Linked DNA regions of Homo sapiens: region 1 is linked to region 2. Evidence: fine-mapped expression QTL. A gene starts in region 2. The other region holds a variant in brackets. All regions are shown on one strand. Distances are from middle to middle.

Region 1 (5,370 bases), 79 kb before region 2:
TTTGAAGACCATGTCCTCGGACAGATTCAGAGTCCACGACAGAAAGGCACTCAACACCCAGGAAAGAAAAACAGAGTTTGGGGCTCCTTGGCTCCTGGGTGAGGGTAGTGGTGTTCCCAGAGAAGCCAGTTTGAGAGTGGGGATCTAGCGCTTCAGGGCTGGCCAAGGCCGTTCAGCCAGTGTTGGGATCCTTTAGGGTTCAATCTATCTCTTCAGAAGTTGCCTGATGGGATGCGGGCATGGAGAGCACCACCATAGGGTGCCCGGCTGGGTGTATGGGGGTTTGGGGGTGCAGGTGGTTAGCAGTTGTCAGAAGTGTCTGGTCCCGCCGGGCGTGGTGGCTCATGCCTGTAATCCCAGCACTTTGGGAGGCCGAGGTGGGTGGATCACCTGAGGTCAGGAGTTCGAGACCAGCCTGACCAACATGTTGAAACCCCGTCTCTACTAAAAATACAAAATTAGCTGGGTGTGGGGGCGCATGCCTGTAATCCCAGGTACTTGGGAGGCTGAGGCAGAAGAATCGCTTAAACCCAGGAGGCAGAGTTCGCAGTGAGCTGAGATCATGCCATTGCACTCCAGCCTGAGAAACAAGAGTGAAACTCCATCTCAAAAAAGAAAAAAAAAAAAAAAAAGAAGTGTCTGGTCCCTGGGGAGGAGACGGCGCCCGGCAGGGACAGTGGGCCTACAGCTGACCTGTCTGCTTGCTGGTGGGTTTCCTGCTGAACTCCTCTCTGGGTCAGTGCGTCTCACTGTCCACCTGTCCCTGCATCCCCTTCTGTGCCTCGCTGGTCATCTTTCTCCCTTGGCAATCCACTTCATACACCACGCCTCCTCCGTCTGCCATCTCTCAGTGCCACGCTCCTGCCTGTGCTCCCATCTCTCCCTGGTTTTGCCCCTGACACGCCACCTGCTCGCCTCTCTCTAGGTCCATCTGGGGGTCTCCGGCCGCCGCTGACCCGCCTGTCCGCAGGCTGAGCTACTCGGACCACGGAGCGCGACGGGGAGGCGCGACTGCGGCTCAGCAAGGACTAAGTTAGCAACAAGACACTCCTCACTGTGCACGACATGGTCGCGAGCACGGCCATCAAGTACGCCAACAACATCGCGCCCGGCTCCAACAGCTGCCACCTGCTCACCTACATCGAGTACCACCAGCAGTGTCTCGGCGTCGAGAAGTCTTTCTTCAAAGTACCGCCAGGCGGTCCGCGCCTGCGCGCCCCTCCCGCCCCTCCTGCGCCTGCGCGCCTCTTCTGCACCCACCCTCTTGCGCCTGCGCGCCACTTATTTCACCTCCTGCGCCAGCGCAGCGCTCCAGGGCCTTTCTTCCCCCGCCCCTCCCCGCGTCCTGCGCCTGCGCGCCTTTCTTCCCCCGGTAAGCCTGCGCGCCGCTCCGGCCCACTTGCTTCTGCGCCTGCGCGCCGCTGCAGGGCCTTCCTCCCCCATCTCCCCCCGCCTCCTACGCCTGCGCGCCACTACATCCCTTCTGCGCCTGCGCAGTGTTACTCTCCTGTGACTGCCACTTGTCTGACTCGCATGTTTGTTTTAACGGATTCCCTGAGGCTGCCTGAGAGCCAGAAATGAAAAGCTGCAGACTTAGGGGCCCTGGTTCAGATCCCAGAGCAGCCATTAGCTACGTTTTCTTGCACGAAAACTTTGTGCCTTTGTGCCTCTGTTTCCCTATATGAAAACTTTACATATAAATATATATATATATATAAAGGCCAGGCGCGGTGGCTCACGCCTTAATCCTAGCACTTTGGGTGTCCGAGGCAGGCAGATCACTTGAGGTCAGGAGTTCGAGACCAGCCTGGCCAACATGGTGAAACCCTGTCTTTACGAAAAATACAAAAATTAGCCAGGCATGGTGGTGCATGCCTGTAATCCCAGCTACTTGGGAGGCTGGAGGCAGGAGAATCACTCCAACCCGGGAGGCAGAGGCAGTGAGCCCAGATGGTGCCACTGCACTCCAGCCTGGGCAACAGCAGAGCAAGACTGTCTCAAAAAAAAAAAAAAAAAGAAAAGTCATTCCAATACCCATAGTAAACTGGATCCTCCGGTAAAAATAAAGTTAAAAAAATAAAAAAGTAAACATATAAAAATATGTATTATTATATATACATTTAAAGTATAGTTTTTATAAATGTACAGTATATAAAACGTCTGT[T/G]TATGGATAAATTTTATGCGTGCTACACTTTTATTTATTTATTTATTTATTTTTGAGACGGAGTCTTGCTCTGTTGCCCAGGCTGGAGTGCAGTGGCGCGATCTCAGCTCACTGCAAGCTCTGCCTCCCGGGTTCACGCCATTCTCCTGCCTCAGCCTCCTGAGTAGCTGGGACTACAGGCGCCCACCACCACGCCCGGCTAATTTTTTGTATTTTTGGTAGAGACAGGGTTCACCGTGTCAGCCAGGATGGTCTCGATCTCCTGACCTTGTGATCCGCCCTCCTTGGCCTCCCAAAGTGCTGGGATTACAGGTGTGAGCCACCGTGCCCGGCCCTTTTATGTTAAATTTAATATAAAATATTTTCTTTTATATCAGCATTTTTATGTAAATATATAAAATATAACAGCAGCTAGCTCACAGCTTTGCTGCATGGATTCAGTGAGTTTACACACATCGAATAGCTCTGGCACACACAAAGCATTGCACCAGCATTCACTATTTATTATTTTTATGGTTTTGTTTGTTTGAGACGGAGTCTTGCTCTGTCACTCAGGCTGGAGTGCAGTGGCCCAATCTTGGCTCACTGCAAGCTCCGCCTCCCGGGTTCACGCCATTCTCCTGCCTCAGCCTCCCCAGTAGCTGGGACTACAGGCGCCCGCCACCACACCTGGCTAATTTTTTGTATTTTTAGTAGAGACGGGGTTTCACCGTGTTAGCCAAGATGGTCTCCATCTCCTGACCTCGTGATCCACCGGCCTCGGCCTCCCAAAGTGCTGGGATTACAGGCATAAGCCACCGCGCCTGGCCTCTTTTTTGTTTTTGTTTTTGTTTTTGAGACAGTCTCTCACTGTCGCCAGGGCTGGAGTGCAGTGGTGCGATCTTGGCTCACTGCAACCTCCGCCTCCCGGGTTCAAGCAATTCTCCTGCCTCAGTCTCCTGAGTAGCTGGGGTTACAGGTGCCTGCCACCACATCCAGCTAATTTTTTGTATTTTTAGTAAAGACGGGGGTTTCACCATGTTGGCCAGGCTGGTCTCAAACTCCTGACCTCGTGATTCACCCACCTCGGCCTCCCAAAGTGCTGAGATTACAGGCATGAGCCACTGTGCCTGGCCATTATTATGGTTTTTACTGTGTCTCTTCTCCAGTGGCATTTCCTCAGCGAGGTCTTTCCTTGCTACCCTGGTTCCCCGAACCTGCCCTCTTCCCCCTCTCTGTGACAGCCCCTTTAAAAGTTGTCTGCCCAGGGCCAGGCACGGTGGCTCACGCCTGTAATCCCAGCACTTTGGGAGGTTGAGATGGGTGGATCACTTGAGGTCAGGAGTTTGAGACCAACCTGGGCAACATGGTGAAACCCTGTCTCTATTAAACATACAAAAAAAATTAGCCAGGCATGGTGGCACACCTGTAATCCCAGCTACTGGGAGGTGGAGGTTGTAGTGAGCCGAGATCATGCCACTGCACTCCAGCCTGGGCGACAGAGCAAGACTCTGTCACAAAAAAATATTCTTCCCAGTTTTCATCATCATGGCTACAAGTTACCAAGGTCATTTGTTTATTTGGTCATTTCCTTGAGGGCGAGAGGCCAGATTGCCTTGTTGTTGTACCAGCGCCAACCCTCTGATGTTTGTTGAATTAATGAACACCCATTTTTCAGATCAGGAAAGGGGATAAGAGACCTCCTGTGACTTGTTCTGTCAATGTAATAAACAAGTAAATTATGCAATAGGTAAGACAGTGTTCAGTGATTCAGAGGAATCCAAAGCACGTAAAGGAGTAAACTGTTGAGGTGGGGGCAGAATTTAAAAGTATGGCGGCTAGCCAGGTGCAGTGCCTCACACCTGTAATCCCAGCACTTTGGGAGGCAGAGGAGGGCAGATCACTTGAGGTCAGGAGTTCGAGACCAGCCTCACCAATATGGTGAAACCCCGTCTCTACTAAAAATACAAAAATTAGCTGGGTATGGTAGTGCATGCCTGTAATCCCAGCTACTTGGGAGGCTGAGGCAGAAGAATCACTTGAACCCGGGAGCCAGAGGTTGCAGTGAGCCGAGATCACGCCACTGCACTCCAGCCTGGGCAACAGAGTGAGACTCTGTCTCAAAAAAAAAAGAAAGAAAGAAAGAAAAAGGTGGCTAAGGAGAGCCTCACTGAGAGAAAGTGATATTTCAACAAAGACTTCAATGAAGAGAAAAGATCTATGGGATGGTGTTCCAGGTCAAGGGGAGTTTGTGCAAAGGCCCTGAGGCAGGACAGTGCCTGCTGTGTTGAAGGAGCAGTGAGGAGGAGGCCCCTGTGGCTGGAGCAGAGTGAGGGAGGGAGGGGGTGGGGAAGGTTGAGAAGTGCCTGGTGGGCCTTGTGGGGGACTTGGCTTTTACCCGAGGGGAGGGGGAGTGGGAGCCATGGAGGCAGAGGAGGGATATGCCCTGACTCAGGTGCTCACGGCGCTCTCTGGCTACTGTGGGGAGGACAGACTGAGGGGAAAGAGACCAGCTGAGATTGAGATGATGATAGTTTGGACCAAGATGTAGCAGGAGAGAGGGTGAGAAGCGTTCGGATTCTGAAAGCAGAGCCCACAGAATTTGTTGGTGTCTCAGCAAAACCCGCTGAGAATGACCAAAGTTTTCTGGTCAGTGCCACTTGAAGGATGGAGCTGCTGTTGTCTGAGATTATGGTAGGTTGGAGTGGAGGGAGGAGATTTAGGGATGAGGGCTGTGGGTAACATCCCTCCCCTAGCTGGGCTGTTTGGGTTTGAGATGCGTGTTAGACGAGGAAATGAGGGGTGGGCAGTTGTATCCAAGAGTCTGGAGTGGTGGGGAGGGGCTCCACCTGGATCCGATGGACTCACCTGAGTGAATGGAACCAAGAGAGTTACACCATCTTAAATTGTCAAGTCGATCCATATGTCGGCACAGATAATCACAGTGCATAGGCAAAGCTTGAGCTACCAGGGCGTTCGCCCCAACATTTTATCTAATAAAAGTGAAACCAGGCTGGGCATGGTGGCTTATACCAGCCTGGACAACATAGTGAGACCGCCATCTCTAAAAAATATGAAAATTAGCCGGGCGTGGTGGTGCATGTGTAGTCCCAACTACTCAGAAGCCTGAGGCAGGAGGATTGCTTAAGCCAAGGAGGTCGAGGCTGCCATGAGCCATGAACGCACCATTGCACTCCAGCCTTGGGTGACAGAGCAAGACCTTGTCT
Region 2 (5,339 bases):
ATCACCATCGACGGAACTTTCTGCGATGATGGAAATGCATCTGCATTGCCCGACAGGGTGGTCAGTAGCTCAGTAGCTCAGTAATGGTGGTTACTGAGTGCTTAAAATGTGGCTGGTGCGATGGAGGAACTGAAGTTGTCATTCGAGTTAGTTTAAATGTAAATCAGCCACAGATGCTGGTGACTGTGGTACCGGGCAGTGCAAAGCCAGCTCTCTCCCACACCTGTCCACCTGAGTGAGACCTTTATCTCCCTCTGTCGCAGACCAGGAATGCCACCCATTTCCACCATCCCACTTACATAAGTGACAGCCACCCAGACCTCCAGGGTTCCACACATCACAAGGGGAACAGACACGCTTCGGCCTAGGACATCTCCCCCAGGGACTAAGGAAGGAGGAAAGGGGCCATACCCTATGCCTCTGTGTGCCCAGCGGGACTTGCCTGGAGGTGGGCTTCATTGAAAGTGGACACTAAAGGTATATTTCATTTGGGTTTTTAACTCAATACAGATTGGAAGCAACAAGCTCTGTCCCTTCAACGGAAATCAACTCACACCACGCCGTGGAAATCCACCAATCAACTGCTGCAAACTCTTCCTTACCTCTTAAGAAGAAGGCAGCAACACCCAAACCAGATGGGAAGCCATGGGAACTGGGTGCCAGAAGCATGAGACACCTGTCTCCATGACCCTGTGCCACAGGCGCCGAGATGGGCAGGAGGGAGGATTCTTGCCCCCCACCCATGAAACCACACAGACAGTGCCACTTCAGTGGCGCCAGCAGCCAGGGACGCCCCAACCTGCCCTCTCTAACGGCGGAGATTTTGGCTGCCACCCCCACAGCCCCACAACACCTTTCCTGGCCTGGTGCCCCTGAAAGCCAGGGCAGCAGAGGAGGAGGAAGAAATGATCCCATGTTGGGGGCCAGCAATGCTTCTGGGCTTGAGGAAGAGGGGTAGGGGCTTGGGTATTGGAGAAGAGGCAGCGCAGAGTTGGGTAAAGGGGGTGCCAGGGTGCAGGAAGGCCTCGTGTTTATGAGAACCAACACAGACCAATGGGGAGGGGCCGTCCAGAGCGTTTAGGGAGGTTGGGGAACCCACCCACCCACCCTGGGTTTCAACTGAGGCTCTAAGATCCTGGGGGAAAAAAACAGAAAATGAGGTGGAAGGAGGGAGAGGGTAGTGGCTGAAAGAGACATCAGGACTCATCAGGCTGATGGGCGTTAGATGAAGTGGGAGATCCTGAAGGCAAAGGTTGTACAGGAGACTGCAGGACTGTGACGTGACCAACCAGCCTGGGAGGGAGATCTGGACTGGGGTCAAGTGTGGGGAAGCCTAAATCAGGATCCCAGGGGCGGAGAGGGCCCAAGCTGAGGGGAACAGCAGGCCATCAGTGACTCAAAGGTCTGGGGAATCCAGGTCAGAGAAGAAACTGCTCCTGGTCCTGGTCTCAGAGCAGAGGGTCTGAAGGTGAAAGAGACAGCCCCGCCGGGTCCGAGGGAGAGTGACCAGGGCCTGAAACTAGAAGGGGGCTGAGGCGGCAGGGTGGGTCAAAGAAAGAAGTCTGAAAAAGCAAGTACAAAGAGAGGGGACACTCCAAACAGGCCTGAGTCCCTGCAGCAGAAGACCGAAGGCCAGGGTCCTAGGGAGTCAGAGGAGCTCAGGCCAGGGCTGGGGTTGGGAGAGAAAGGGATGCCCTGGCTGCAGCCGGGGCAGGATCAGACGGGAGAGAAGGCTCAGGTCCAGGTAGGGGATGGGTGGAGATAAAGCTTAGGCTGGGCCGGGGTTCAAGGAAGAGAGACGCCGCAGAGCAGGGTCCCAGGGGGCCGGGGACGCCTCATATCTGAGCTGAGGTTGAAGGGAAGACAGACAGCAGGTTGGGGACTCTGGGAGTTTGAGGCGACTCGGGGACAAGGGTCCAGACAGGAAAGGAGACAGTGACTGGCCCTGGACCTAGAGACGGAAAGGTCTACTGGGCAGATCCGAGGGGCCCCGGGAGGGGTCTGAACAGGGCCCAGATCCCAGGAAGTGCCTGGAAGGAGCTCTGGGCCAGGCTGAAGTCCCGAGAGCTGTCTTGAGGTCCCTAAGCCGGGCTGGGGTCCCCAGGGGCGTCCCAGGTGGATGCAGGTCGGACTGGCGTTCCGAGGGGTCTCCCGGGGGTCTCCGAGCCAGGCTGGGGGGTCACCAGGGGCGTCCCAAGGGGCTCCGGGCCCGGCCCGGGTCCCGAAGGGTGTCCGAGGCGCCCTGGCCGGGGTCGCGGATGGGGGAGGGGCGCCCCCGCCCCACATAAAGGCCCGAGGAGCGGCGGGCGCGCACAAAGCGGGCGGGCGGGCGCGGAGCGGGGAGGCCGGGACCGGGGAGGGCCGGGCGGGCCGGCGGGCGGGAGGGGGCCGGGCGGGCTGCGCAGGGGCGGCGCGGCCGCTCCTCACCTGATTGTCCATGGCTGGCGCCCCGCCCCGCCCCCGGGCCCCGCGTCGCTCGCCGCCGCCGCCGCCGCCGCCGCCGCTCAACGCCGCCCCGCCGCCCTCATTGTCTGTCAAGCGCCGCCGCCGCCGCCGCCGCCGCCGATCCCGGCCGCCCGCTCGCCCGCCAGCCCCGCGGAACCGGAAACCACCGCCAGCCCGGGTCGCGCACCGATCACGGGCCCCCGCCGCCGACTAGGGCCCGCCGCATCGACTGACAGCCACCTGGGCCAATCGACGGCGCGGACGGCCGCTTGTGGCGCGGGACTTCCTGCCTGGCGGGGGCCTGCCGGGCTGCGGCCGGAGGGACGAAGCCCGCAGCCAATGGGAGGCCGGGACCGGAGGGGCGGGAGGAGGGAGGGAGGGAGGCGCGAGGCGAGCCTGGCGGAGGGGAGCGCGAGGTGTGCGCCGCACGTGGAGGGGGGCGGGGGCGGGACGGGCGCGCGGCGCCTGCGCGCTGCGGCCCGCAGGGGGCGCTGCCTCGTGGCTGGAGCCTCCAGGGCGGGAGCGTCCCGGGGGCTGGAACTGAGGTTACGGGTTCGAGCCCTGTGGAGGGATCCCCCAGCCCCCCCGGTAGGGACACTTTTGTTTCCTGACCTCATGATGCTGCTATGTAATGGAACGAGCCCTGGGCTCTGGAACTGGAGATTAATTTTCTTTTCTTTTTTTTTTTTATGAGACACGTCTCGCTCTGTGGCCTAGGCTAGAGTGTACTAGCACGATCTCAGCTCACTGCAACCTCCACCTCCCAGGTTCAAGAGATTCTACTGCCTCAGCCTCCCGAGTAGCTGGGATTACAGGAGCTCGCCATTATGCCCAGCTAATTTTTGTATTTTTAGTAGAGACGGGGTTTTGCCATGTTGGCCAGGCTGGTCTCGAACTCCTGACCTCAAGTGATCCGCCTGCCTCAACCTCCCAAAGTGGAGATTAATTTTCTAATCTTGCATAATCCTTGGCAAACCTGGTCAGCCCCTTCTTCACCTTTCCCTGAGTCTCAGTTTGTGCATCTGTGAAATAGGTTGAAGAACAGTACTGTGTGATTCTTCATGCTAATTTGAATGATACAAATTTGAAATCGTGCTACATTCAAATGACCCAAGAGAGTCACATGTTTTCAGTTAGACACGAAGAATAAGTTCTGGCGATCCATCACACAGCAAGGTGACTACATAATAATGTAATTTTATATTTTAAAATTGCTAAAAGCGGCCAGATGCGGTGGCTCACGCCTGTAATCCCAACACTTTGGGAGGCTGAGGGGGGCGGATCACCTGAGGTCAGAAGTTCAAGACCAGCCTGGCCAACATGGTGAAATCCCATCTCTACTAAAAAAATACAAAAATTAGCCGGGCGTGGTGGTGTGTGCCTGTAATTCTAGCTACTCAGGAGGCTGAGGCAGGAGAATCGCCTGAACCAGGGAGGCAGAGGTTGCAGTGAGATGAGATCATGCCACTGCACTCCAGCCTGAGTGACAGAGCAAGACTCTGTCTCAAAAAAGAGAAAAAAAAGAAAAAAAATGCTAAAAGTGGATTTTGAATGTTCTCACCATAAATAATTGATAAGTATATGTGGTGATGGATATGTCAATTAGCCTGATTTGTTTATTCCATAATGTATACATGTACCAAAGCATCAAGGTGTACCCCATACATATATACAGTTATTATTTGTCAATAAAGATTTTTTTTTTGAGATGAGGTCTCTGCTGGAGTGCAGTGGCACAATCGTGGCGCACTGTAACCTAGACCTCCTGGGTTCAAACAATTCTCCCACCTCAGCCTCTCAAGCAACTAGGACTGACTGCAGGCTCATGTCACCACGCCCGGCTAGTTTGGTTATTTATTTATTTATAGAAAGAGCGATCTCACTATGTTGCCCAAGCTGGTCTCCAACTCCTGGCCTCAGGCAATCCTCCTGCCATGGCCTCCCAAAGTGCTAGGACTATAGGCATGAGCCACTGCGCCCTGAACAAAGATATAATTTTTAAAGAGAGAATCTCATGTTATCCACAAAATTTTAAATAATACCCATCTCTCAAAAAACTGTTTTGATTTATTGAGGATCACAAAATTTTACAATGACCTGTAAACTGTGTTTATGTGGGAAATAGGCATAACCCCATTTTTTCAGGACTTTATAAGCCACTTGTCTCTTGGACATTAGGACTTCTGCCTGTGATTTGGGGATCCTTGTGCAGTTATTTTAATTCCTTCTTGTCATTAAAAATCGGGTTGTCATTTACAAGAAAGAAACAAACCACCCCATTAAAAAGTGGGCAAAGGACATGAACAGACACTTCTCAAAAGAAGACATACATGCGGCCAATAAGCATATGAAAAACGCTCAACATCACTGATCATTAGAGAAATGCAAATCAAAACCACAATGAGATACCATCTGACACCAGTCGGAATGGCGATTATTAAAAAGTCAAAAAACAACAGATGTTGTCAAGGTTGCAGAGAAAAAGGAGCACTTTTACACTGTTGATGGGAGTATAAATTAGTTCGACCACTGTGGAAGACAGTGTGACGATTCCTTAAAGACCTAGAGGCATGAATAATGTTCAACCCAGCAATCCCATTACTGGGTATATACCCAGAGGAATATAAATAATTTTATTATAAAGACACATGCACGCGTATGTTCACGGCAGCATTATTGACAATAGCAAAGACGTGAAATCAACCTAAATGCCCATCAGTTATAGACTGGATAAAGAAAATATGGTATATATACACCATGGAATACTATGCAGCCATAAAAAGGAATCAGATCATGTCCTTTGCAGGGACATGGATGGAGTTAGAAGCCGTCATCCTCAGCAAACTAACGCAGGAACAGAAAATCCAACACCACATGTTCTCATGTATAAGTGG

What was found.
Region 1: its variant is fine-mapped to the expression of MLLT1 in whole blood (TOPMed, PIP above 0.99).

What each region holds. Positions count from the first base shown.
Region 1 is chr19:6,198,340-6,203,709 of GRCh38, forward strand. LOC105372255 (a long non-coding RNA gene) reads right to left here and starts at 1,185. Exons shown (of 4, transcript NR_187772.1): 1 at 1,137-1,185. RefSeq lists enhancers at 382-985, 986-1,588 and a silencer at 1,102-1,431. The variant T/G (reference allele first, on the strand shown) is at 2,165.
Region 2 is chr19:6,277,346-6,282,684 of GRCh38, forward strand. It overlaps MLLT1 (MLLT1 super elongation complex subunit), which reads right to left and starts at 2,630. Exons shown (of 12, transcript NM_005934.4): 1 at 2,428-2,630. The coding sequence starts at 2,439. RefSeq lists an enhancer at 1,718-1,797 and a silencer at 2,598-3,027.